7 linked regions of the Homo sapiens genome follow. The protein of the gene in region 5 interacts with the protein of the main gene of each other region in a biochemical or structural test. Each region holds a gene or a part of one and is shown on either strand. Other genes may lie near its edges.

The links.
Region 1: the proteins of XPO1 (region 5) and HNF4A form a complex in vitro, tested with the Homo sapiens proteins (one study listed by BioGRID).
Region 2: the proteins of XPO1 (region 5) and NPM1 interact in a test that uses a peptide from one of them, tested with the Homo sapiens proteins (one study listed by BioGRID).
Region 3: the proteins of XPO1 (region 5) and NUP214 form a complex in vitro, tested with the Homo sapiens proteins (one study listed by BioGRID).
Region 4: the proteins of XPO1 (region 5) and PXN interact in a test that uses a peptide from one of them, tested with the Homo sapiens proteins (one study listed by BioGRID).
Region 6: the proteins of XPO1 (region 5) and LRPPRC form a complex in vitro, tested with the Homo sapiens proteins (one study listed by BioGRID and IntAct).
Region 7: the proteins of XPO1 (region 5) and SMURF2 form a complex in vitro, tested with the Homo sapiens proteins (one study listed by BioGRID).

The regions. Positions count from the first base shown.
Region 1 is NC_000020.11:44,425,199-44,428,698, reverse strand, and holds part of HNF4A (hepatocyte nuclear factor 4-alpha), read right to left. Parts: intron 365-3,500; coding exon 212-364; intron 1-211. UniProt on the Homo sapiens protein: Transcriptional regulator which controls the expression of hepatic genes during the transition of endodermal cells to hepatic progenitor cells, facilitating the recruitment of RNA pol II to the promoters of target genes. Activates the transcription of CYP2C38.
Region 2 is NC_000005.10:171,401,349-171,404,848, reverse strand, and holds part of NPM1 (nucleophosmin), read right to left. Parts: intron 1-3,500. UniProt on the Homo sapiens protein: Involved in diverse cellular processes such as ribosome biogenesis, centrosome duplication, protein chaperoning, histone assembly, cell proliferation, and regulation of tumor suppressors p53/TP53 and ARF.
Region 3 is NC_000009.12:131,128,586-131,132,085, reverse strand, and holds part of NUP214 (nuclear pore complex protein Nup214), read right to left. Parts: intron 2,808-3,500; coding exon 2,609-2,807; intron 1,321-2,608; coding exon 1,250-1,320; intron 1-1,249. UniProt on the Homo sapiens protein: Part of the nuclear pore complex. Has a critical role in nucleocytoplasmic transport.
Region 4 is NC_000012.12:120,217,231-120,220,730, reverse strand, and holds part of PXN (paxillin), read left to right. Parts: exon of another isoform or gene 1-639; coding exon 640-1,524; intron 1,525-3,500. UniProt on the Homo sapiens protein: Cytoskeletal protein involved in actin-membrane attachment at sites of cell adhesion to the extracellular matrix (focal adhesion). Recruits other proteins such as TRIM15 to focal adhesion.
Region 5 is NC_000002.12:61,531,857-61,535,356, reverse strand, and holds part of XPO1 (exportin-1), read left to right. Parts: intron 1-678; exon of another isoform or gene 679-934; intron 935-1,453; 5' UTR 1,454-1,459; coding exon 1,460-1,585; intron 1,586-3,500. UniProt on the Homo sapiens protein: Mediates the nuclear export of cellular proteins (cargos) bearing a leucine-rich nuclear export signal (NES) and of RNAs.
Region 6 is NC_000002.12:43,943,990-43,947,489, forward strand, and holds part of LRPPRC (leucine-rich PPR motif-containing protein, mitochondrial precursor), read right to left. Parts: intron 3,382-3,500; coding exon 3,268-3,381; intron 2,255-3,267; coding exon 2,124-2,254; intron 1,429-2,123; coding exon 1,343-1,428; intron 1-1,342. UniProt on the Homo sapiens protein: May play a role in RNA metabolism in both nuclei and mitochondria. In the nucleus binds to HNRPA1-associated poly(A) mRNAs and is part of nmRNP complexes at late stages of mRNA maturation which are possibly associated with nuclear mRNA export.
Region 7 is NC_000017.11:64,554,308-64,557,807, forward strand, and holds part of SMURF2 (E3 ubiquitin-protein ligase SMURF2), read right to left. Parts: intron 3,416-3,500; coding exon 3,301-3,415; intron 1,692-3,300; coding exon 1,513-1,691; intron 687-1,512; coding exon 549-686; intron 1-548. UniProt on the Homo sapiens protein: E3 ubiquitin-protein ligase which accepts ubiquitin from an E2 ubiquitin-conjugating enzyme in the form of a thioester and then directly transfers the ubiquitin to targeted substrates.

The sequences.
Region 1 (3,500 bases), on a different chromosome or scaffold from region 5:
ATCCCAACAATGGCTTCATTCAGTAAAGGCTGTCAGTCACCTTACTGAATAAACAGCCTCAACAAATGGACAATCTTGCCCTTTATTCCCTACCCTGGAACCCAGAAAACTGTTGCATCCTGGTTCTACCTTCTAGACTCCACTTTCTCCTGCCTCCTGTCTTAAGCCCCATCCTCACCCTTTGCAAGGTAAAATCCCAGAGTTTGCCCACCTGCCTGTCCCCTGGGTCGGGGCCACTCACACATCTGTCCGTTGCTGAGGTGAGTGGGCATTGTGTTGGCAACGATGACGTTGGTTCCCATATGTTCCTGCATCAGGTGAGGGTGCAGGGGGTGGTGGGCATGGGGTGCATCGCTGGGGGACCCTGCAGGTAGAGAAGGTCGATCAGGATGGAGAGTCTGGGATGCAGACCTCAGGCCTTGGGACGCCATCTTCCTCAGGCGTGGCCAATCAACCAGCCCATCCAATATTGGCAGTGCCTGTTGGGTACCTATTCCTGGGTTAGTAAACTAGGGTGTACCATTCCCATCTATAGACTTCATGAGGGTGTTAAGAGGACCCCAAAAAACCAAGAGAACAAAAGTGAGTTGAAAGGAACAAGGTGCATATAAGGAAGCTCTGAGATCACGTAAATGTTCTAATGAGTAGTGTATTGGTCACATAGTAACATAATGGATGTAATCAATGGCTCTCAAAGCTCCTTGGAGTGCAAGTCCTTCAACCATTTGGTCCCGCCTCACCTTTCAGCCTCATCCCCCACATCTCTGCTGCAGCCAACTGACCTACTTATAGCATCTATGTGTCCCCTGTGTTTTTCTATCTCTATGCTTCTGCTCACGTTGTTGCTTCTGTCAGAGATGTTTTTCCACCCCAAACCTGTTCCATGTCCATAAGCCCAAATCCCAGCTCATATATTTCCTCTCTTTAGAAGCCTCTCCTGATTCTCCTTCCTTGGATTTCTCATAGTAATTTGTCTGTAACACAACTTTTAGGAACAACCACTTCTTCTGTCTATGAGCATTACAATTTCAGAGGTATTTTTCTTCTTTCTTTGAGGGCCTAGCAGATTGTCTGGAACACAGTAACCGCTTCAAACATATGTCAGGGAGTAAAAATACCACATGGGATATGGTTTAATAATAGCCTATGGTGAGTAATATGACGATGATGGAATTTCAACGCTTGCAAGCGATCTCTACAGTACATCTATTTCAGTGATAAATAACAATTGTTGATAATTAACAATTATCACGTGCCAGGTACTGTTGTATAGCACTTCCCATGTTTCACATAATTTAATCCTCACAGCAATCCTATAGGATGGATACTATTATTAGCCCATTCTACAGATGAGACAACTGAGCCCAGAGAGCTCTTAATTATTTGGCAACAGACCACAGGCTCCTGATCCTGATCTCAATGACACCTGATTCATAATAACCCCATGTTCACAGGGTCAAAGTGAGAATGAAATGAGCTATCACATAACAGCGATTCCCAACTGGGGATGATTTTGGCCCATCAGGAGACATTTGACAATATCCAAAGACATTTTTGGTTGTCACCACTGGAGAAGTGCTACTGGCACCTTATGGGTACAGGACAGAGATGCAGCTGAACAATGTACAGGACAGCCCCACACAACAAAGAATTGTCCAGTTCCAAGTATCAATAGTACCAATGTTGAGAAACCTCACCCTCGCCTTGTCATCTTCAGTCACTGAAACACCTCCAAAATCTCGAATTCAACATCCCCACTTTGACTTCACCTCATGTCCTTCCAGCTCCCGTAATCTAATACCATCGCTGCAAAAATTCTTCAGCCCTACTGAGACTGTCAATTCACTGACACTCTCTTTTCACTATCACCCCATCCTTTTGTTGTTGTTGTTGAGACAGAGCCTTGTTCTGTCGCCCACGCTGGAGTGCAATGTCATGATCTCAGCTCACTTCAACCTCCATCTCCCGGGTTCAAGTGATTGTCCTGCCTCAGCCTCCCGAGTAGCTGGGATTACAGGTGCATGCCACCATGTCTGGCTAATTTTTTTTTGTATTTTTAGTAGAGATGGTGTTTTGCTGTGTTGCCAGGTTGGTCTTGAACTCCTAGCCTCAAGTGATCCACCCGCCTCGGCCTCCCAAAGTGCTAGGATTACAGGTGTGAGCCACCGTGCCCGGCCTCTATCTTTATTTCTTTTTGAGTGCAGCCCAGACTCCATGACCTATCATTCTAATCACTCCCTTGCAGTCATCCTAACTCCTTCATACTCCCCTTCATAGTCAAACCATTTCAAAGGGTTATCTACTCTATCTCCACCTTCCCACTCACTCTCTTTGGAGCACTCTCCAATCTGGTTTCCACTCTCCCAGCTCTCTGATGCTGCTTTCAACACAATTGCCAAGAGCCTCCAGCTGTCAATCCAATGGACCCTTTCCTCTCTCTTCCCCTCCTCTCTTCACCTCTCCTTTCTTCCCCGCTTCTTTCTGTTTCTCTGTAGAGTTTAACACCATTAAACACTCTGTCCTTCAAACACGCTCTTCTCTTGGATTCTGGAATTGCCCTGGTTTTCTCCTACCCCTCTGGCCAGTCTTCTTCCCTTCCCTCCATGGCTCCATCTTCCCCCTGATTCCACAGAGCTGCCTTTAATCTTGTGCTTGAGCAACAGACTCATACATTCAACAGCCTCCTTGATAACTTGGATTTGTAATAGTCATCTCATGCTTAATGAAAGTCCACAATGAGGCTGGGCATGGTGGCTCACACCTGTAATCCCAGCACTTTGAGAGGCCAAGTCGGAAGGATTGCTTAAGGCTAGGAGTTCAAGACCAGCCTGGGCAACATAGTGAGACCTTGTCTCTATAAAAAATAAGAATGAAGAATTAGCTGGGTGTGGTGGCACGCACCTGTAGTCCCAGCTACTTGAAAGGCTGGGGTAGGAGGATCTCTTGAGCCTGGAAGGTTGAGGCTACAGTGAACTATGATTGCGCCACTGCACTCCAGCCTGGGTGGCAGAGAGAGATCTCGTCTCAAAAAAAAAAAAAAAAGGAAAAAAGAAAAGAGGGTCCACAATGGATCTCTGAGGTCACCCCTCACTACCACCCCCAGACCCAGTGTCTTGTTGTTTATTCTGTCCTCCTCATTTCAGTAAATTACTCCATCGTCATTTCTGCTACTCAAAGCAAAAATGTAGACTTTGTCCTTGACTCTTCCTCTTTCTCTCACTCCCTATGTCTGATCAATCAGCAAATCCTGTGGGTGTGGGCTCTTCCTCCAAATAGATGATCAGGTTTATCTTCACTGCTCCATTGCCAGGGTCCAAGCCTCCATCATCCATCACATGATTGGAGACAGTGACATTCTCAGGAATCTGCAATTCACTCTCTACCCAACAGAGTGGTTTGTTTGAAGCATTAGTCTGGGATGGGTGTGGCGGCTCACACCTGTCATTCCAGCACTTTGGGAGACTGAGGTGGGTGATCACTTGAGGTCAGGAGTTTGAGAC
Region 2 (3,500 bases), on a different chromosome or scaffold from region 5:
AATGGTGCCCAGGCTGGAGTGCAGTGGCGTGATCTCGGCTCACTACAACCTACACCTCCCAGCCGCCTGCCTTGGCCTCCCAAAGTGCCGAGATTGCAGCCTCTGCCCGGCCGCCACCCCGTCTGGGAAGTGAGGAGTGTCTCTGCCTGGCCGCCCATCGTCTGGAATGTGAGGAGCCCCTCTGCCTGGCTGCCCAGTCTGGAAAGTGAGGAGCGTCTCCGCCCGGCCGCCATCCCATCTAGGAAGTGAGGAGCGCCTCTTCCCAGCCGCCATCACATCTAGGAAGTGAGGAGCGTCTCTGCCCGGCCGCCCATCGTCTGAGATGTGGGGAGCGCCTCTGCCCCGCCGCCCCATCTGGGATGTGAGGAGCGCCTCTGCCCGGCCGAGACCCCGTCTGGGAGGTGAGGAGCGTCTCTGCCTGGCCGCCCCGTCTGAGAAGTGAGGAGACCCTCTGCCTGGCAACCACCCCGTCTGAGAAGTGAGGAGCCCCTCCGCCCGGCAGCTGCCCCGTCTGAGAAGTGAGGAGCCTCTCCGCCCGGCAGCCACCCCATCTGGGAAGTGAGGAGCATCTCCGCCCAGCAGCCACCCCGTCCGGGAGGGAGGTGGGGGGGGGTCAACCCCCCGCCCGGCCAGCCGCCCTATCTGGGAGGGAGGTGGGGGGTCAGCCCCCCCGACCGGCCAGCCGTGCCATCCGGGAGGGAGGTGGGGGGGTCAGCCCCCCACCTGGCCAGCCGTGCCGTCCGGGAGGGAGGTGGGGGGGTCAGCCCCCCGCCCGGCCAGCCGCCCCGTCCGGGAGGTGAGGGTTGCCTCTGCCCGGCCGCCCCTACTGGGAAGTGAGGAGCCCCTCAGCCCGGCCAGCCACCCCGTCCGGGAGATGGGGGGGTCAGCCCCCCCACCCGGCCAGCCGCCCCGTCCGGGAGGGAGGTGGGGGGGTAAGCCCCCCGCCTGGCCGGCCGCCCCGTCCGGGAGGGAGGTGGGGGGGTCAGCCCTCCGCCCGGCCAGCCGCCCCGTCTGGGAGGTGAGGGGCGCCTCTGCCCGGCCGCCCCTACTGGGAAGTGAGGAGCCCCTCTGCCCGGCCAGCCGCCCCGTCCGGGAGGGAGGTGGGGGGGTCAGCCCCCCGCCCGGCCGGCCGCCCTGTCCGGGAGGGAGGTGGGGGGGTCAGCCCCCCGCCTGGCCAGCCGCCCCGTCCGGGAGGGAGGTGGGGGGGGTCAGCCCCCCTGCCCGGCCAGCCGCCCCGTCCGGGAGGTGAGGGGCGCCTCTGCCCAGCCGCCCCTACTGGGAAGTGAGGAGCCCCTCTGCCCGGCCACCACCCCGTCTGGGAGGTGTGCCCAACAGCTCATTGAGAACGGGCCAGGATGACGATGGCAGCTTTGTGGAATAGAAAGGCAGGAAAGGTGGGGAAAAGATTGAGAAATCGGATGGTTGCCGTGTCTGTGTAGAAAGAAGTAGACATGGGAGACTTTTCATTTTGTTCTGCACTAAGAAAAATTCCTCTGCCTTGGGATCCTGTTGATCTGTGACCTTACCCCCAACCCTGTGCTCTCTGAAACATGTGCTGTGTCCACTCAGGGTTAAATGGATTAAGGGCGGTGCAAGATGTGCTTTGTTAAACAGATGCTTGAAGGCAGCATGCTCGTTAAGAGTCATCACCAATCCCTAATCTCAAGTAATCAGGTACACAAACACTGCGGAAGGCCGCAGGGTCCTCTGCCTAGGAAAACCAGAGACCTTTGTTCACTTGTTTATCTGCTGACCTTCCCTCCACTATTGTCCCATGACCCTGCCAAATCCCCCTCTGTGAGAAACACCCAAGAATTATCAATAAAAAAATAAATTAAAAAAAAAATAAAAATAAAAAATAAATAAATAAATAAATAAAATGAAAAAAAAAAAAAAGAACTACCTGAGATTGGGTAATTTATGAAGAAAAGAGGTTTAATTGACTTACAGTGCTGTAGGCTGTATAGGAAGCATGGCTAGGAGGCCACAGGAAATTTACAATCATGGCAGAAGGCAAAGGGGAAGCAAGGCACATCTTACATGGCAGCAGAAGAGAGAGAGCACAAAGGGGGAGGTGCTACACACTTTCAAACAACCAGATCTCATGAGAATTCACTATCAACAGAACAGCAAGAGGGAAATCTACCCCATGATCCAATTACCTCCCACCAGGCCCCTCTTCCAACACGTGGGGATTACAATTTGAGATGAGATGTGGGTGGGGACACAAAGCCAGACCATATCAGGTATTAGGTTGATTCCATGTCTTTGCTATTGTGAATAGTGCTGCAGTGAATATTTGTGTGCATGTATCTTTATGGTAGAATGATTTATATTCCTTTGGGAATGTAATGGGATTGCTGGGTCAAATGGTAGTTCTGTTTTTAGCTCTTTGAGGAATCGCCACTCTGCTTTCCACAATGGTTGAACTAATTTACACTCCCACCAAGAGTGTGTAAGCATTCCCTTTTTTCTGCAACCTTGCCAGCAGCTGTTGTTTTTTGAGTTTTTAATAATAGCTATTCTGACTGGTGTGAGATGGTATCTCATTGTGGTTTCGATTTGCATTTCTCTAATCAGTGATATTGAGCTGTTTTTCATATGCTTTTTGGCCACTTGTATGTCTTTTGAAAAGTGTCTGTTTATGTCCTTTGCCCACTTTTTAGTGGGGTTGTTTGTATGGAGGTTCATCATTAGTTACATTTAGTCAATAGATTATATGTGTTGTAGAATATGAAATTTATTCGTTTAAATTGTAAATAAACTATTTCATCAGGTTAAAAAAAAAAAAAAAAGGAAATCAGAAAATCCCTAAGAATAAAGCAAGAAAGTCACTGTAGTCTGATGCCTGGCGCCCACCCCAGACCATTTTTATGACAATCTCCATAAGTAGAGCACAAGTACTGGGGTTCCTTTAAACTTTTTTTCCTTTAAATTCCATTTTCTGCAGGGAAGTGGGTAGGGTCAGGAATGAGATCAATACACCCTGTCTAGGCCCAAATGTTCTACTTCAAGCTAACATGCAGCCAAGGTTGAGAACTTCTACTCTATGCAGACATACCTTTCAACAAAGATTCCTTACAGGAAACAACTATTGACTTCACAATCACAAAAAATTCAGGCCAGGCGTGGTGGCTCACACACTTTGAGAGGCCCAGGAGGGCGGATCACCTGCAGTCAGGGGTTTGAGACCAGCCTGGCCAACATATAGAGTGAAACCCCATCTCTACTCAAAAATACAAAAATACGCTGGGCCTGGTGGCACGCGCATGTAGTCCCAGCTACTTGGGAAGCTGAGGCAGGAGAATCGCTTGAACCCGGGAAGTGAAGGTTGCAGTAAGCCGAGATCACGCAACTCTAACCCAGACTGAGTGACAAAGTGAGGGTCCATCTCTTTCAAAAAAGTCTATTGGCTCCCCCCGCCCCACCACCTTACATTTAGTATGTTTGTGTGTGTGTGTGTACCTACAACACACAACAAGCTGATTTTTTTTTTTGGA
Region 3 (3,500 bases), on a different chromosome or scaffold from region 5:
CATGTTCAGATATAGGTAATGAGAGTAGTCAATGCAACACCATTTGCAGCAGCAACGCCACTAGCACTGATGCAGACAATCATCAATAGTGGAATAAGGCTGGGCGAGGTGGCTCATGTCTGTAATCCCAGCACTTTGGAAGGCCAAGGTGGGCACACTGCTTGAGCCCAGGAGTTTGAGACCAGCCTGGGCAACATGGCAAAACCCTATCTCTACAAAAAATACAAAAATTAGCTGTGCATGGTGGCAAGTGCCTGTAGTCTCAGCTACCCGGGAGGCTGAAGTGGAAGGATCACCTGAGCCCAGGAGGCTGAGGCTGCAGTGAACCATTACGTTATCACACCATTGCACCCCAGCCTGGGCAACAGAGCAAGACCATCTCTCAAAAAAAAATAATAATAAATAAATAAAAAATTAAGGCAAACAGCAAAGCAAGAAAATTTAAAAAATTGCATTATCTTTTTACAGGTTAGTGTCCTAAAAGATTATGTACCAAATTTCAGGTAACTTTTGGTAATAACAAATAAGAAACATAACCTTAACCTTAAACCTATACCACCTACATTCACCACTCTGCTCCCCTCCTCGCCAGAGAACAGTCTTGAGGAGGAAGGCACAAGAAAGGCCTTAGCACCACCTGTGAATCCCTCCTTCGTGTCCAGGCTCAATAGACATATGGGGGTTCCTTGCAACTCAATTGATATTGAAGGATATTTGTGAACATTATTTCAAGAAATTCACAGGGAGGATGACAGAGTGCACATGCAACAAGAGTATCCATTTTCTTTGGTGCCCATAGTTAGACAAACAGACCTTTAAAGACAGACTCAGTTAAAAGACAAATACTGTGCTTTAACCCAGAGTGATTCTGCATTATCATCATAGTTTTTTCACTAACTCTTTTCCCTTGAGCTGTTTTTATGGAATGGACTGAAAAAGGTGGGGAACAGCGCATAGCGTATGATCACATTTTACATAAAAACAACAACAAAAAAAAAGCAGCTACCCATAGACTATTTGTATAACATCCAGAAAAGTATGGAAGGCTATCTACTCAACACAACATAGTGGGTGCCTCTGGAAGAAGGACTATGGGAAAGGGAAGAGTTCCACTCTTCATTCACTGATGGATTTGTTACAATGAGTATAAATTACTTTTTAATAGGAAAAACAAGAAAGATACTCCCAAACCACCCCCAAAAAAGTGGGCAACTTAAGAAAAATTCTGAAGTTCAAGATAAGAACTTACAGGAAGATACTGGACCACAGTTCCATTCTGTTTTCCCACTGCCAGCTGCTTTCCTTTGGGGCTCCAGCACACTGAGCAAAGACAGTATTACCAAATGAAAACAAGAAAATGGAGCAAACCAATAAGATCTATCACACACAGCTAATTATCAATTCTCATTCCTCTGTCAGTCCATGGAAGATTGTAGGATCATCTCTATCAGGCAAAGTGGAAAAAAGTAAAATCATTTTAACGATATAAGCCAATTGATTTATCACTGGGCTATTGAATTGAAAGCTAAAAATGCTTTTTCAATAGATTACTGCCCAGAAAGCTGCAAAATACAGAAAACTCTGTAGTCTTTACATAAGACAAGGAGAACAGAGAAGGTTTCCAAATACCAAGAAATCACTGGCCGGGCACAGTGGCTCATGCCTGTAATCCCAGCACTTTGGGAGGATGAGACGGACGGATCACTTGAGGTCAGAAGTTCAAGACCAGCCTGGCCAACATGGTGAAACCCCGTCTCTACTAAAATATACAAAAATTAGCTGGGCATGGTGGCAGGCACCTGTAATCCCAACTACTCTGGAGTCTGAGGCAAGAGAATTGCTTGAACCCAGCAGGTGGAGGTTGCAGTGAGCTGAGATCGCGCCACTGCACTCCAGCCTGGGCGACAGAGCAAGACTCTGTCTCAAAAAAAAAACAAAAAAAAAAAAACAAAACCAGAAATCATTCTCCTGCTCCCATTTAATATTTAAAATGCTTTTCCGCCCAAAGGTACAAATGACTTTCAGAGTACCACCGTTACAGATCCAGAAACAATTATTCCCAAAAAACACTTCTAAACCAGCTGTACCAAAATATTTCTCCAGAAATCCCAAGTACATTCAGGTTAAATTATGTATGCTGTTTGGCTTCAAGGACATTAACTATGGGTATAAAGAATACTCTCAGCCGGGCACAGTGCCTCACACCTGTAATCCTAGCATATGCGGGGTGGAGGAGGGCAGATCACTTGAGGTCAGGAGTTCAAGACCAGCCTGGCCAACATGGTGAAACCTTGTCTCTACAAAAAATACAAAAATTAGCTGGGCATGGTGGCGCATGTCTATAATCCCAGCTATTTGGGTGGCCGAGGCACGAGAATTGCTTGAACCCAGGAGGTGGAGGTTGCAGTGGCTGAGATGATGCCACTGTACTCCAGCCTGGGCGACACAGTGAGACTGTCTCAAAAAAGAATACCTTCCATCCTTAACCTCCCTCGTCATGAAAAAAAAAACCAAAACACAAAAAGCTATCCACTTTCACTTCTAGAAATCAATTCTTAAGTAGATGACCATGATTGTATGCTACAGTGTGAAAGCCTTTATTACTCACCAGAGGTTACTGCTACCGTGGAAGGAAGAGTTGCACATACTTTCACTGTTTCCGTGACTTGCAGGACAGCAATACTACCATCAGCCAGACAAACTGCCACCATGGAGGGGACAGTGGGGTTCCACTTCATATCAATCACCATGCCTCCTGCATCTTTCAAAAGCTTATGATAGGCAAATGGGCGTTTTTGCTGTTTAGCCTTTTAAAACAAATATGCAAAAGTGAAATAAGTTAACAAATAGTAAATGCAGAAACATTTAATATTCAATGGAAATTACTGAATACACAAGGTATCTCAAATCAGTTTATTTTTCTCCATAACCATAAAAAAAGATTGTTTTATGCATCAATCTATTTGCTATAGACAATTTCAACACAACTTTGAAAATGGCAATCAATTATTCTAACATGCTTAGGGGGACTCTCAGAAGGGGAATGCACAATTGCAAAATAACCAATAAATAGCAGACAATAGATTAAAATCTTGGCTCTGCTTCTTAATAATGTTGGGACCTTGGACAGTTACTTAAACTCTGAGCCTGTTTCTCTACCTATAAAATGAAGATAATAGTACCTACTACATAAGGCTGTGGTAGGCATGAACGAGGGACAAGGCATATAAAGCACTTAGTACAGAGTCTAACACACACAGTCAGTATAAACACTCACTATTATTATCATTCTTAAACTGCTTGGAATGGAAGAACATCCAAAATGTAGGAACTTTTGACATTATGTATTCATCTATGACTTTGGGCAAGTCACCTAAGCCTCCTGATAACAACTTAGGGCAGATGGCGTTATGAAAGAATTTCTTGAAGTCCCTTCTGTCTCAAAGATCTATGATTCTATAATTAAGGATTTTTTTTTAACCCATATTTTAATCTAGAGA
Region 4 (3,500 bases), on a different chromosome or scaffold from region 5:
CCTTGCGTGCTATAGTTCCAGCTCCAGGCCAGTGGTTCTGAGCAGCCATGGTCAGAAGCAAGTAAGTTGGATTCAGGGCCTGGCCTGAGGGAGCTGTGCCCCGGTGCTTTTAAGGCTGCCGTTTTCTCAGACAGCCTGTGTCCTGATGCCAGGAGAAGCAGCAGTGGTTTTAGTCAGATCCCTGGAGCAAGGATGTGGAAGACGTAGAGGACTTGGGGTGTAGGAAAGCTGGGATTGTCCGGAGGGACATGGCCGAGTTGGGCCAGTGTCCGAGGCGGGTTCAGCAGCCCCTGGGGCTGGCTCTCCCTCCATTTGTGCCTGGGGCTGTCTTCCGTAGCCACCTGGCTCCCCATTTGTCCACCTTACCGTGGTCTTTTCTTTCTCATACCCTCCCTGGGTGGCTCCACAGGCACGGCTTGGTGGCTGCTTTCTCTTGCTTGGGTTTGGTGAGGGCTAAGCACGCAAAGCCCAGGGAAGCTTTTTTGGGGTCTGGGTCTCCTTCAAGGGTCAGTCCTGTGCGTCAGCTTTGCAGCCACCTTGGTCAGCCCTAAGGCCGAGCCCACCGCCTGCAAGGTGCAGCCGTCCTCACTCCCCTCATCTCTCTCTCTCCTCTCCCCTCTGCATTTCTCTCTTCTCCAGACCAGCTCCTCCACTGTGGCTCTGAGTGCCCCGGGGCTGTCCAGCTCTGCTCCGTCCTCATACTGCTCCCTTCCTCCTTCTCCTCCTCCCATGCCATCTGTATTTCTGCCACCCACCACTATACCCTCCCCTCGAGGCCAGGGCCACACTCCGGAGTTCCCTTGTACTGAGCAGAGTGGACGAGGCCTTCTACCTCCTGTAGCCCCCAGCTGGCTTGATTTGGCTGGTCTTGGGGTGATGCCTGACACCTTCAACTCAAGGTCTCCCTCTGTGGAGGGTTCTCTGTGGGCAGTGGGCACAGAGAGTCAGGGTCGAGATTGGAGGCACCTGCCGACCATCACAAGTGAGCTCTCTGGGGCTCCCCGCTGCCACACTGTACCCTGTGCTGGGAGCACAGCTCTCCAAGAGCCTGGGGAGCCCCAGGGGCCACCAGCCAGCCCTTCGTGCCCAGAGGAGGCCTTGGCTGCCACATGGGAGCAGCCATGGGCTTCGGAGGTATTCGGGCCTGAGAGAATGCCCCCCTCTGGAGCTGCTCGAAGCTTCCAAGAAGTAACAGAGCCAGCTGTAGTGGCAGTGGACCGGCAGGCCATCTTCCCAGATACCTGGACTCTCACGGAGGAACATGGCCTACAGCAGGAGAGGCCAAGGCCAGAGCCAGGGAGGCTGGGAAGCAGCTCCCCTGCCTCAGTTACCACGGAGCAGCTAGGTGCAAAGATGACCGAGAGGGGAAGTGTGGCCAGGCCAACCCAGGGACCTGAAACCCCAAGGAGCCCAGAGGGCACCACGGAAGCTGCCACCCAGGACGGGAAGGAACAGCCAGAGCTTCCATGTGCCATGGCCATGGGCACACCCAGCACCACGGAGAGGATTTCCACCTCTGGCCAGGCAGGCACCAGCTCGCATGGCTGCTGGGCATGGCCATTGGCGGGTCTGAGTGTGGGCCGCTCCTCGCTAACTGCATGCAGCCTCCCACTCTGCGCATGTCTGCTTGGGCAGAAAATGCTGAGACACTGTGGCCGGACCTGACAGTCAGCACTTGGCAGTGGGCTCTGTGGACCCAGCATTTCTCATAGCGTCAACCCACCTCTTGCCTTGTTGAGGCTTTTTCCTTTCAGATGAGCTGTCCTTGACATTCTGATGTGGTGAAATGGTTAGCAGCATGGACTTTGGAACCAGATAGACCTAGATACAAACCACATGTCTAACACTTGCTACCTCTGTGACCTTGGGCAACCCCCTCCCTCAGCCTCAGTTTTCTCATCTGTAAAGTGGGGAGAATTTCCATCAAGATTGTCCGGAGACCTAAATGAGATAATTCCTGGAAAGTGTTTAGAACACAGCATGTGGTCCCTCAATAGGCCGTGGCTGACAGTACTTTTATTACTTGCTTTTTGCTTAAATTAAAACTTTATGCCGGGCCAGGTGTGGTGGCTCACGCCTGTAATCCCAGCACTTTGGGAGGCCGAGGCGGGCGGATCACCTGAGGTTGGGAGTTCGAGGCCAGCCTGACCAACATGGAGAAACCCCATCTCTACTAAAGATACAAAAAGATTAGCTGGGCATGGTGGCGCATGCCTGTAATCCCAGCTACTCAGGAGGCTGAGGCAGGAGAATCACTTGAACCCAGGACGCAGAGGTTGCGGTGAGCCAAGATCATACCATTGCACTCCAGCCTGGGCAACAAGAGTGAAACTTGGTCTCAAAAAACAAAAACAAAACAACAACAACAACAAAAAACTTTATGCCTCACCCTGGCACAGTAGCTTATACCTGTAATCCTAGCACTTTGGGAGGCTGAGGCAAGAGGATCGCTTGAGCCCAGGAGTTTGAGACCAGCCTAGGCAACACAGTGAAACCCTGTCTCTACAAAAAATTAAAGATTAGCTGGGCGTGGTTGCACATGCCTATAGTCCCAGCTGCTGGGGAGGCTAAAGCAGGAGGATGGCTTTAGCCCAGGAGTTTGAGGCTGCAGTGAGTTGTGATCGCACCACTGCATTCAGCCTGAGCAACAGATCAAGACACTGTCTCAAAAAAAAAAAAAAAAAAAAATCCCCCAAGCTTTATGCCTCTTTGGAAAACAAAACGAAACAACCAAAAACCCCCAAAACACTACCAACAAGTATAATAGCATAATATAATATTAGCATAATAATATAAATAAGAAAAAAAAAACTAGTTAAAAAAGTTCCTGGCTAGCTGAGCACGGTGGCTCACACCTGTATTCCCAGCACTTTGGGAGGCCGAGGCAGGCAGATCACGAGGTCAGGAGTTTGAGACCAGCCGAACCAACATGATGAAACCCCATCTCTACTAAAAAAAAAAACAAAAAACAACAACAACAAAAATTAGCCAGGCGTGGTGGTGCATGCCTTTAATCCCAGCTACTCAGGAGGCTGAGGCAGGAGAATCTCTTGAACCCAGGAGGCGGAGGTTGCAGTGAGACCAGATCGCGCCACTGCATTCCAGCCTGGGCGACAGAGCGAGACTCTGTCCCCCCCCAAAAAAAAGTTCCTGGAAGGAAACACTTTTTCTATTATAAATTAAAAAAAAGAAAAAAGAAAAAGCCGTATGCCTTGTCAAGGGCATGCACTTACATCCTCTGGAATAATTCTTGTGCAAACCCTGTGCGGTAAGCCAAGAAAATCTTGTGGTTCCATTTTAAGGAAGGGGAAGCTGAGGCCCATGGCAATTAAGTGTCTTGCCCAAGGTCAGTGGCCAACTTAGAGGTGAATGCTGGGTCAGAGGTCTCGCTCGCAGCCTGTGCTTCTGGAGCCAGTCCGATCTGCCCCCTCCCCTTGCCTCTACCCACCTCCACCGGTCCAATCTGCCCCCTCCCCGTGCCTCCACCCACCTCCGCTTGG
Region 5 (3,500 bases):
GGCTTTCAGGATGTCCTGAATCCTCTATAATTGTATACAAAATCGTGAGTTTTTAAAAACTGGGTTAGAGCTATTGGTTCCTCAGAGTCTCAGGCATCTTAGACCCCCAAAAAGGTTAAGGACTACTGACTTAACCAATTAGGTTTGAGTGGCATTGGCTTTGAAGAAAAGCAGAGGAAAGATATATTTTATAATTCTGGGCAACAAAAAAGTGGATGTGTGCCAGCATCTTAGAGTAGAATCCTCTTAAAAGGATAGCACTGCATATGAACTAGTAGGTTTTAACCAGTGCATATTTAGGCGAAGTAGCTCATTTTTCTGTTAGAATTCTTTTTTATTTGGGAATGGGCAAGCTTTTACAGCTTTTACCTTGCCAATGAATACCTGGAATTTAAAAAATCTTGTTAGGCATATTGCCCATAAAGTTTTTTTTCCTAGATCATATATTCAGTAAATATGTTTGTAGCTTTATTTCAATCCCCCAATTCATTGAGGGTTGAAACAATTTGAATGGTTTGAGTGTAGAAGCTAAGTTATTTCTGTAGAGGCTAAGGGCATTTATACCAAGATATGTTAGACTTGTGGTTCCTGCTAACCATTGCTGTAGACAATAGGAATTACTGTATATCCACATTTTAATTTTTAACATCATTCTGTCTTTGTTTGTTTGTTTTTGAGATGGAGTCTCATTCTCTTGCCCAGGCTAGAGTGTGGTGGTGCATCTCGGCTTACTGCAAACTCCGTCTCCTGGGTTCAAGCAGTTCTCCTGCCTCAGCTTCCCAAGTAGCTGGGATTACAGGTGCCCGCCTCCATGCCTGGCTGATTTTTGTATTTTTAGTAGAGACGGGGTTTTGCCATGTTGGCCAGGCTGGTCTGGAACTCCTGACCTCAAGTGATTCGCCCACCTCGGCCTCCCAAAGTGCTGGGATTACAGGTGTGAGCCACCACGCTCGGCCCATTCTGTCTTTATAGCATTATTTTTATAAAGTTAAGATAATGTGAAGTGAGCTTTTACTGAGTTATTCAGAAGACCCTACTTGGGAAGAAAAGAAAATCACATTCACTTGAACTTAATCCTACTTGCTTAAAAAGTTTTGACATCAAGATACTGAACTGTATCACGTTTTAGGACCATAAAATCCTAATAGTGGATGCGTTTAAATAATAGGTTAGCATACTTTATAAATGTTAGTAGAATAGGAAAGTCTTCCTGGTGTATAAACTAAACACTAGAAAAGTTGAATGGACCATAATAATTTATGTAATTATCAAATAGCTAAGTAATTTCAGCTTTTGTTACTTGCTTTTACTATCTCAGTTTTCTGTAATTAAAGTCTCTAAAGTATTCATTAAAATATTTGTAATAACATGGTTGAAGTAAAATAACTTGTAGGAAGTTTTTGATAATACCAAAACTTGATAGGCAGCTTCAATTTTTTTTCTTTATTTTCAGTAATCTATGCCAGCAATTATGACAATGTTAGCAGACCATGCAGCTCGTCAGCTGCTTGATTTCAGCCAAAAACTGGATATCAACTTATTAGATAATGTGGTGAATTGCTTATACCATGGAGAAGGAGCCCAGGTAAAGTAGCCAACCAAAACTTTATAACATTATGACAGTGTAACAGAGTTGTTGGGTTTAGAATAAAATTTTAAATTATCACCTTTAAAAAAGATATTCCATAGTTTGCATTAATTTGGAATTCTGTATTAACCATAATGAAAATTGGTTTGGAGAAAGAAATTGCATGTTTGACATGGTTAGAGTGGGTTGTTTTGGAATATTATACTTGTTTTGTCCTTAAGAGCCAAATGTTATTAAATACTTTGTAGGTATTAAAGGTTCTCTGTACTTTTATATATACTTAATATGTTTGGCACTAATACGATTCTTCTACTTTTAAAACATTTACAGAAGTACTTCACAGATATGTTTGTTTAAATAAAAACAGGAATACCAAGTATTTTTATGTTAGTTGAATTTTGTGCACTTTTCAAAGTGGTACTGTTAATGTAGGGAATTATCTTAAACATAAACCAAATTTTGATCAGTTTAAGATTTTTGGTTTTTTTGAACCCAACTAAAAGGTGAAACAGAAATGTGTGTACAATTTTAAATTGTATATGTCACAAGAAAAAAAACTTGATTTTTTACCTGTGGGGCCAAACTTTTTTTTGAGACAGTCTCGCTCTGTGGTCCAGGCAGGAGTGCAGTGGCGCTATCTCAGCTCACTGCAACCCCTGCCTCCTGGGTTCAAGCGATTGTCTTGCCTCAGCCTCCCTGGTAGCTGGGATTACAGGCACACGCCACCATGCCTGGCTAATTTTTGTATTTTTAGTAGAGATGGGGTTTCACCGTGTTGGCCAGGCTGGTCTTGGAACTCCTGACCTCAGGTGATCCACCTGACTCGGCCTCCCAAAGTGCTGGGATTACAGGCATGAGCCACCGCGTGCTGGCCCAAACATGTTTTTGAATGAGTAAAAAGTTTTGCAGTTGGGTCAGAAATCTTTTTTTTTTTTCAGATGGAGTCTTGCTCTGTCACCAGGCCTGAGTGCAGTGGCACAGTCTCGGCTCACTGCAACCTCTGCCTCCCAGGTTTTCAAGCAATTCACCTGCCTTAGCCTCCCGAGTAGCTGGGACTACAGACGCGCCACCATGCCCAGCTAATTTTTTGTATTTTAGTAGAGATGGGTTTCATCATATTGGCCAGGATGGTCTCCATCTCCTGACCTCGTGATCCGCCTGCCTTGGCCTCCCAAAGTGTGGAGATGACAGGCATGAGCCACCGCGCCTGGCCAGAAATCTTTTATGGTAGTTTTGTTGCCAGAACAGTAGATTTCTGGTTAGATAAATGTTCAGCTAGTAGATGGGAGGTTACTTATATTGTCAAGATATTTATATTTGCATAATTAAGAAACTGAGTGCCGGCCGGGCGCGGTGGCTCACGCCTGTAATCCCAGCACTTTGAGAGGCCGACGCCGGCGGATGACGAGGTCAGGAGATCGAGACCATCCTGGCTAACACGGTGAAACCCCGTCTCTACTAAAAACACAAAAAATTAGCCAGGCGTGGTGGCGGGCGCCTGTAGTCCCAGCTACTCGGGAGGCTGAGGCAGGAGAATGGCGTGAACCCGGGAGGCGGAGCTTGCAGTGAGCCGAGGTTGCGCCACTGCACTCCAGCCTGGGCAACGGCATGAGACTTCGTCTCAAAAATAAAAATAAATAAATAAAATAAAATAAAAAAACCTAAACCTGAGTGCCATTACACTTTCTGAAAATATATAAGGTGGATACAGTACTATCTTTTATAGTAGTCCAAAAAGCATCATGTATAAATGTTTCCATTCCCTTATGAAATGCAACAGTACTGCTTTTACTATAGTAGAAACTTGAAAAAGGTCCATGGAAACGCTAAAAGTAGAAAAAATTACTCTTGCAGTGATTCTGTAAGCTTGTTAGCCCAGGTTTATACTTTTAGGGCGTTTTGATCAGTATAT
Region 6 (3,500 bases), about 18 Mb from region 5:
TTCTAGTGTATAATGCCGATTTCAAGTTAATTACTACTTGCATTTCTAAACGAGACTACAATTATAAATCCACAATAGCATGGTTTTATCATTTCCCTGCAACTTTGACTACAAATTATAGATAGGGACTATGTGCCCACTCTGTACCACATAACCCTGTATGGTCTGCCCTATAGCTGTAAGATCCTCCTAAATGGATGCTTTTATCGTTCAGAGCTAACATCTGCTAAATCACACCATTGTTTCTTCAGCAGATGGCTTGTCAGGAGGCCAGATAATAAAGATGTGTTTACACTGTATATACAGCCAGACTAATGGTCTGATACCGATAGGGCCTGTTTGCTATGTCGATACTAATTAGCCAAGCAGAGCCAATGAAAGCTTTCCAAAAGACTGCATGTTAATACATTAGATTCATTAAGCTTCATTAGGAAGGCAGAAACAAACATTTTAGGATATGGAATAAGTGCATTTTTATAATGTTGTTCTTAATTATTACACAGACAAAATGTTTTGACCACTTTACAAAAAGTGATTTTAAAAAAATAGGCTAATCCTTAGAAAGAGTTAGAAAGGCGTCCTAGGAAAACATTCAATGTTCTAATAAATGATTTTCTCCATACATTTTTCCCTATAATAAAATTAAAACAATCTTTTCTGAAAATCAAAGGAAAAGAGGAAGGCTAAAAAGGAAATTTCAAAATAAAGCCAAATCAGAAAGTTAAGAAACAAGAAAATAGTATGAATGTATTATCAAGTGTAATTAATTTTATTAGGCTTAGCATTATCTCAACGAGAAAATTTGAGTATGCAAATCAGCTGTGTAATCAGCTATGCTTTTTCCATGAACCATTAAATAAAAACCTTAATTAAAATAAAAACTTTAAAGTATATATTTTGTTAATGTTATTAAAAAGTAAGGCAAAGACTACTGCAAAATTCAGGCGCATATATTAGGTTATGTTTATAGGTTTTACGTTTATAGGTTTTACGTTCAGCCTTCAGACCTTCTTAAGCAAAAACAAAGCCATTAGTGCAGGCACATAAGCAAATTGTGCCATAAGTCATGATCTTCAAACTCAATCCAAACAGCAATGCTAATAAAAACTAGCTGCAGAAATGCAAAAAGCACTGAGCTGTGCAAATGTAAATGACAAGCTTGCCAATCCATTAAAACTAATGGCCTACACTGTCCATGTAGCTCTGGTTGGATTCACATGCAAATTTCTATGCAAAGTGTTCAAGCACTTTGCAGGACATGATATCCATTAATATCAATTCACATGTTATTCCAGTGGCAAGATACTTGCATCACATATTTCCTTTATGTGCTGAGGCTTACCTTGGAGCTTGCCATGCTTTGCCAATACTCTTACAAGGCCTACATACTTGCCGGTGTCAAGGACAGCAGATGAATCTAAGCGGTCACTAAAAATTAAAGCCACATTTATATTGTTTTAAAAGTCAATTAACTGCTAAAAGAACAGCAACATCCATTTAATCACTTTTCAAAAGCTCATCAGAAGACCTGAACTAATGTTGGCCTCTACGCTTCAGTTAGGATTTCTTTTTGAAGCCATATACAAGTTCACACGAAATTATATTCAAAGTGACTAGTGAAGTAAAAGCCCAACACTACATATATATTGCATCACTCCATCTGCAAAGGATACTTATGAAGAAACTCTTTGGCTTTAAGTGATTCTAACCTTCATCACGAATACTTGACATTTTTACTTGAAAAATCTAACAGGATAGGAAGCCAAAGGTACCTGAGAAATGGATAGAATTTTATTTACACTACAATATTGAAAGGGAAATGTTATCAAGCCTCTTAAAACAGTTACCACCATCACCACTGTTGTGATGATATATAATCAATGGAAAAAAACCTTTGGTTCTAAGGACTAGAATGTCTTATCATACTTAAACAAAGACACCTTGCTGAACATAAGCCACAATTAATTAAAGAGCCGTATAATACGAAATTTCAAAAACACTGACAACAAAAGAATTTTTAAAAATGACATTATATAAGAGAGTAATATTCCATCTAGATAATCTATCAAGGTCTGTAGAGCAGAATAAATGTTGACAACTTGTTTCAGTGCCAGGGTACTCACAATTCTTCTTTCAAGTTCAAGGCATCTTCTACTTTATCATGTCGACAGCATAAATTTATTAAAGCTGCATAGCCACCAGTAACCATGTCGGATTCATATTTTGCTTTCAATTCAAGGGCTTTTTGCATATTCTAAAATACAGCATAGATGTGAAAAAGAAGAAATCAGTGTGAAGGTAAAAATGTCACATTTTTAGCTTTACTGTTCAGAGTTTAGAAAAAGTTAATAGTACTTTAAAAATAAATGGTTTCATGTTAACAACCTGACTCTGCCCCTTGATATTTTTATTCACCTCTAAGAAGTGGGCAAGTCTTACACGTGTAGGGGTTAAAAGATGTGTTATCTGTAATATAAAATAGGCCATTATTTATGCCAAATTTGATGTTTTAGGCTTTGTGTATGGTATTATTTAAAAAAGACTTCCAGATTAAGTAATTCCCAAATCAAATCCTAATCACAGTCTAATTTCAGGATGCAGAAATATGTATCATTGAAAAGTTTCTCAGTCTAGTTTAGTATCCAAGTAATATGAAGAAATATTTTAGAATTTAACAGTAGCAGATTATAATCATAAAGTTAGTCATGATATTTTTTCCCTAAAACTACAAGTTTATGGCTCAATTATATTGAACTAGAAAGTGAAAAATAGTCTAGTGATATCCCACAAATTGCAGACATACACTAAAATGAACACAAAGTACAGCTGGATGCCCGCTGAAAAAAGGCAAGGGACCCTTTATCTCAGAAAGAGCTTTTTTCCAGCAGGAAAATGGAATTTCAATCCCTGCATTAACAACCTAGTAATATTTGACTTGCAAATGACTACTGCGTGTATCAGTTGCTTGACAATCTAGATATAAGAGACCGGAGCCATGGCTTGAAAGGACATTTGGCATGTATGATAAACCTATCACAGCTGTTACTATCATTCACTTTGCAGATTATCGTAAACAAACTACAGCAACCAGAAAACATGCCATTCAAGGTGTAGCTGAAATTAGTTAACCTTTCATTTAATTGCATTCTTTACAAGCCTGACATATAACGATCAATTGTAAAAATCATAAATATTATATTTGGTTTTTCTTATTGTTACCAAGAATTTTTTGCCTTAATAATATTTAAATATTAAAACAAATGTTACCTCTTCTGAACAAAGCACTAATATGAGTTGCTTTAGGACATCTCTTATAGGTTGATTTTCAGCTTTTAGTGTTTCAAGTGTGGACTCCAATTCAGATGATGTAAGTTGCACAGTCTACAGAAAAGAAAAAAGAAAAGAAAAATTTCCTGAAAAAGGAAATATAGTATGCCTTTTGTCACTCTTCCCTTTAAACTGACTTTCCTTTCTACCTTCCTAAATGTCATAAATGCTAT
Region 7 (3,500 bases), on a different chromosome or scaffold from region 5:
AGGACCAGGCTTAGGCCTTAAAAAGATCTAGCAGCTTCTGCTTTTGAGCTTTAGAAAGCTGGCCACCCCATAAGAAGTCTGGCTATCTTGTTGGGAGAGAGAGTGGCTATGGGGGGAGGGAGTGGCTATGGGGAGAGGGAGTGGTCATGGAGAGAGGGAATGGCCTTTGATATCACATAGGGAGAACCAAGGAACTCAGCCAACAATGAGAACAAGGCCCCAGACAGTGACCCCAGTCAACAGCCATGCCAGCTAGCCCTCAGCCATTTGAGTTATCCTAGTTATGAGTGAAGAGGCCATCTTGGTGTTGCAGGCCTAGCTGACATCTTGTGGAACACCAGTGTTGTCATCCATGTTGTTCTTTTGCCCAATTTCCTGACCCATGGAATTGTGAGAAATAATAAAATGTCTGTTCTAAATAAGCCACTAAATTCTCCTGAAGCGGATTTTGTAACACTAAGTAGTACTATCTAAATATTTAAGTTTGTTCATACTAACATTCTAGAACATTTTAAAAAATTCAGCCTTGAGAACACAGGAGTGTTTACCTGACATATTCTTTTTTATTTTCTTCATTAACAGGGATACTTTTGCCATTTGGTTTAAGTTCATGCTGAATAATTTCACCATATGCATTATGTTCAACACAGAAGGTATGGTCCAAAACACCTGTAATATCATTCTCACTGGATAGGAAAGAGGAAAAGATATGTAACTGGGAAACCTAAAATACAGACCCTATAGATGTATTAATTGGTGAGATAAAACTAAGATCATTTTATAATATAACAAATGTGAGGTCAGATTCTGCTTCCATACCACCTAGTTCTTTCTGGACAGAAAAGTCAAAGAGCTTTAACCTTCATAAACACAGAAAACATTTAACTTCCTGAGTAATGAGAAAGAGCCTTGGTCAAAGCTGGGCCTTGCTAGAACCACCAATATAGGACAATTTCAGTTACATTTGGCATTCTGAAGAGCCCTACTCGGTACTGTACTCCAAGGGGCCAAGTGCCTGTGTATCCCTAGTGAGAAAGCTACTGTATACTTTATAAAAAATAAACATTGCCAGTGTATCTTCACAAAATAATGACCTCTTGCAAAACAGAATCAGTTCTTAGCTTAAATTCAACAATTAGTTCTTATTCTAAAAGTACGGTTCCAACAATCGCCACTTCATTAAAAGCAACAGCAGCCAAGAATTTGCTATTCTAACACACGCAGGTTTGGAACAGAATTTGTATCACATTGAGGAAACAATTATATAAAGTACTTTTAAAAATAGAAATATACTAGTTGTTTTTTCCTTTTTAAAGTAGTAACACTTGCTAAGTTTAAGGAATTTGAAATGTATAAAGAAGCTACAGGAAAGGGGGAAATCATATGCGATCCTATCACTCAAATAACCACTCAATATTTTCTGTGTAATTTTTTTAAGTACATCAGTTTTGAAACATATTTTTTTTTAAAGCTCAGAGTTTATAATGAAGAGATAGAAGACTCAATACATACAGTATCCACACTAAACTGTTGTGAAGATCCGGATCTACTAACTCCATGTCATCCAAGGTAATTGACTTCCCAAGCAATTGCTTATAAAAAGGCAATGTGAAACCACCATCAATATAATGTCCATGAAACACAGCCATTCCCATTATTCGTCCAACAAAGTGGAAATAGGATAAATGTTCCTGAAATTGAAAACAGTATATATACTCGTTAGGCACTACCCAGGAAAATTTTAATAAAAATGAAATATTTCAGCAACATTAATCTTTTTGAGAATAAGCATAAAATTTTTACTCTTCAATAGAGTCAGGAGGGAGTATTTCTCTAGGGCATGCTCCAGAGTCTCTAGATCACCAGAGAACAGCATATTACACAGGGTAATATGCCCTTCTCGCAGGGGCCAGTCATTTTGTAAATTTTATCTTTTAGAAATTAAGTCCAAACTATGGTCCCGGAGCTTCATTCAACTACTTGCAGATCCTTTTCTCTTCCTTCTCTCACCTCCTGCTGAGCCCTTTGTCATGAAAAAAAATCTTTCAATCCTAAACCTCCCTACTTCCTTGACCTAACCAGAAATTAAACATCAAAACACCATAGATTTAAGAGCACAGACTTGGTGTCAGACTTGAATTAGAATCACGATTCTGCCAGTCAATGGCATATGGACAAATTAACCCCCGTAAGACTAACTGTCCACATCTGGAAATATGAGGATAATAACAGTATCTAAAAAGCATCTCTATGAGGAGTAAAATGAGGTGATGTTTGAAACCCATGGAACTGGACCTGGCATGTTATAAGCAGTCAATGAGTCTGGGCTATTGTTACTACAGGGGCAGTAGTGGGCCCTCCAAAAAGAACCTTCACCTCAAAATCCTCCCTAAATAACTTCTTGAAACAAATCTAACATTTCTACCCTTTTATATATATTTGGTCTTTCGTCACAGATTGTTTTGTTAGATGTTTGTATTTTTAAATTCTTTTACCTCTCTATTTACTAAGTAATCTTTTAAGCTCGTCTTTAAACCTTTTATCTTGTTTTTGTTTCTTTTTTAAAAGTAACACACGCGCACGCACACAAACATATATATTTACCAAAGTTGCATTATACTATTTGATAACCTTCGTTTCACTTAACACATCATAAACACCATCTTTCCATATCATTAACTATTATCCCACATTATCATTTTAGTGGCTGTATAGTATGCCCTTATATGGAAAGACAATATAAAAACAATACATTAGTAATAACTGCTAACTTCTGTTGAGTGCTTAGTAATGTAGTTGATAGAGTTGTAGAGTGAATAACATACAGCACTGTGCTAAGTGCTTAATGTGCAGGGTCCCATTTCATTCTCATAACCCCTCTTTGAGGTACAAATGTATTTATTAGCAATGACAAAACTGAAGCTTAAGTCCATGAACTTGCCCTGAAAGGTCACAAAGCTAGTAAGTGATGAGACCACGACACGTCTTTCTAATTCCAGAACCTATGCCTTTAATCATTTGCATTATTCTGCTTCATGTCATAATTTAATCAGTCCCCGCTCCTGAAGACAACTATGTTGTTTTCAGTTGAGTGCTACTATAAACAATAAACATCCCTGTTTCCAAATTGGTGCATATATCCATAATCATCTGCTTGGGAAAATTTTATAGAAGGGGAATTGCTGAGTCAAAGGGCACAACTAAGACAAGGACAAATAATTTCTATATAATAAACTACATTAACATGTAAACATGAAAAGCATTATTGGTCACAATTCACATCATAACTTCAAATCATACCGGATTAACTGCAGAATCAGGATTGATCTGCAATGTATAAATATCATCTCTTGAATACTGGAAGAGGCCATAGTATGGATTCAACATTTCATGTGACAAGAGATACAACCATTCCCTAGAAAACAAGATATGACCAAGGAATTTTTTTGTTAATGTATACATTTTTATTAAGATATGTCATTAACTAATCATTTTAGCAA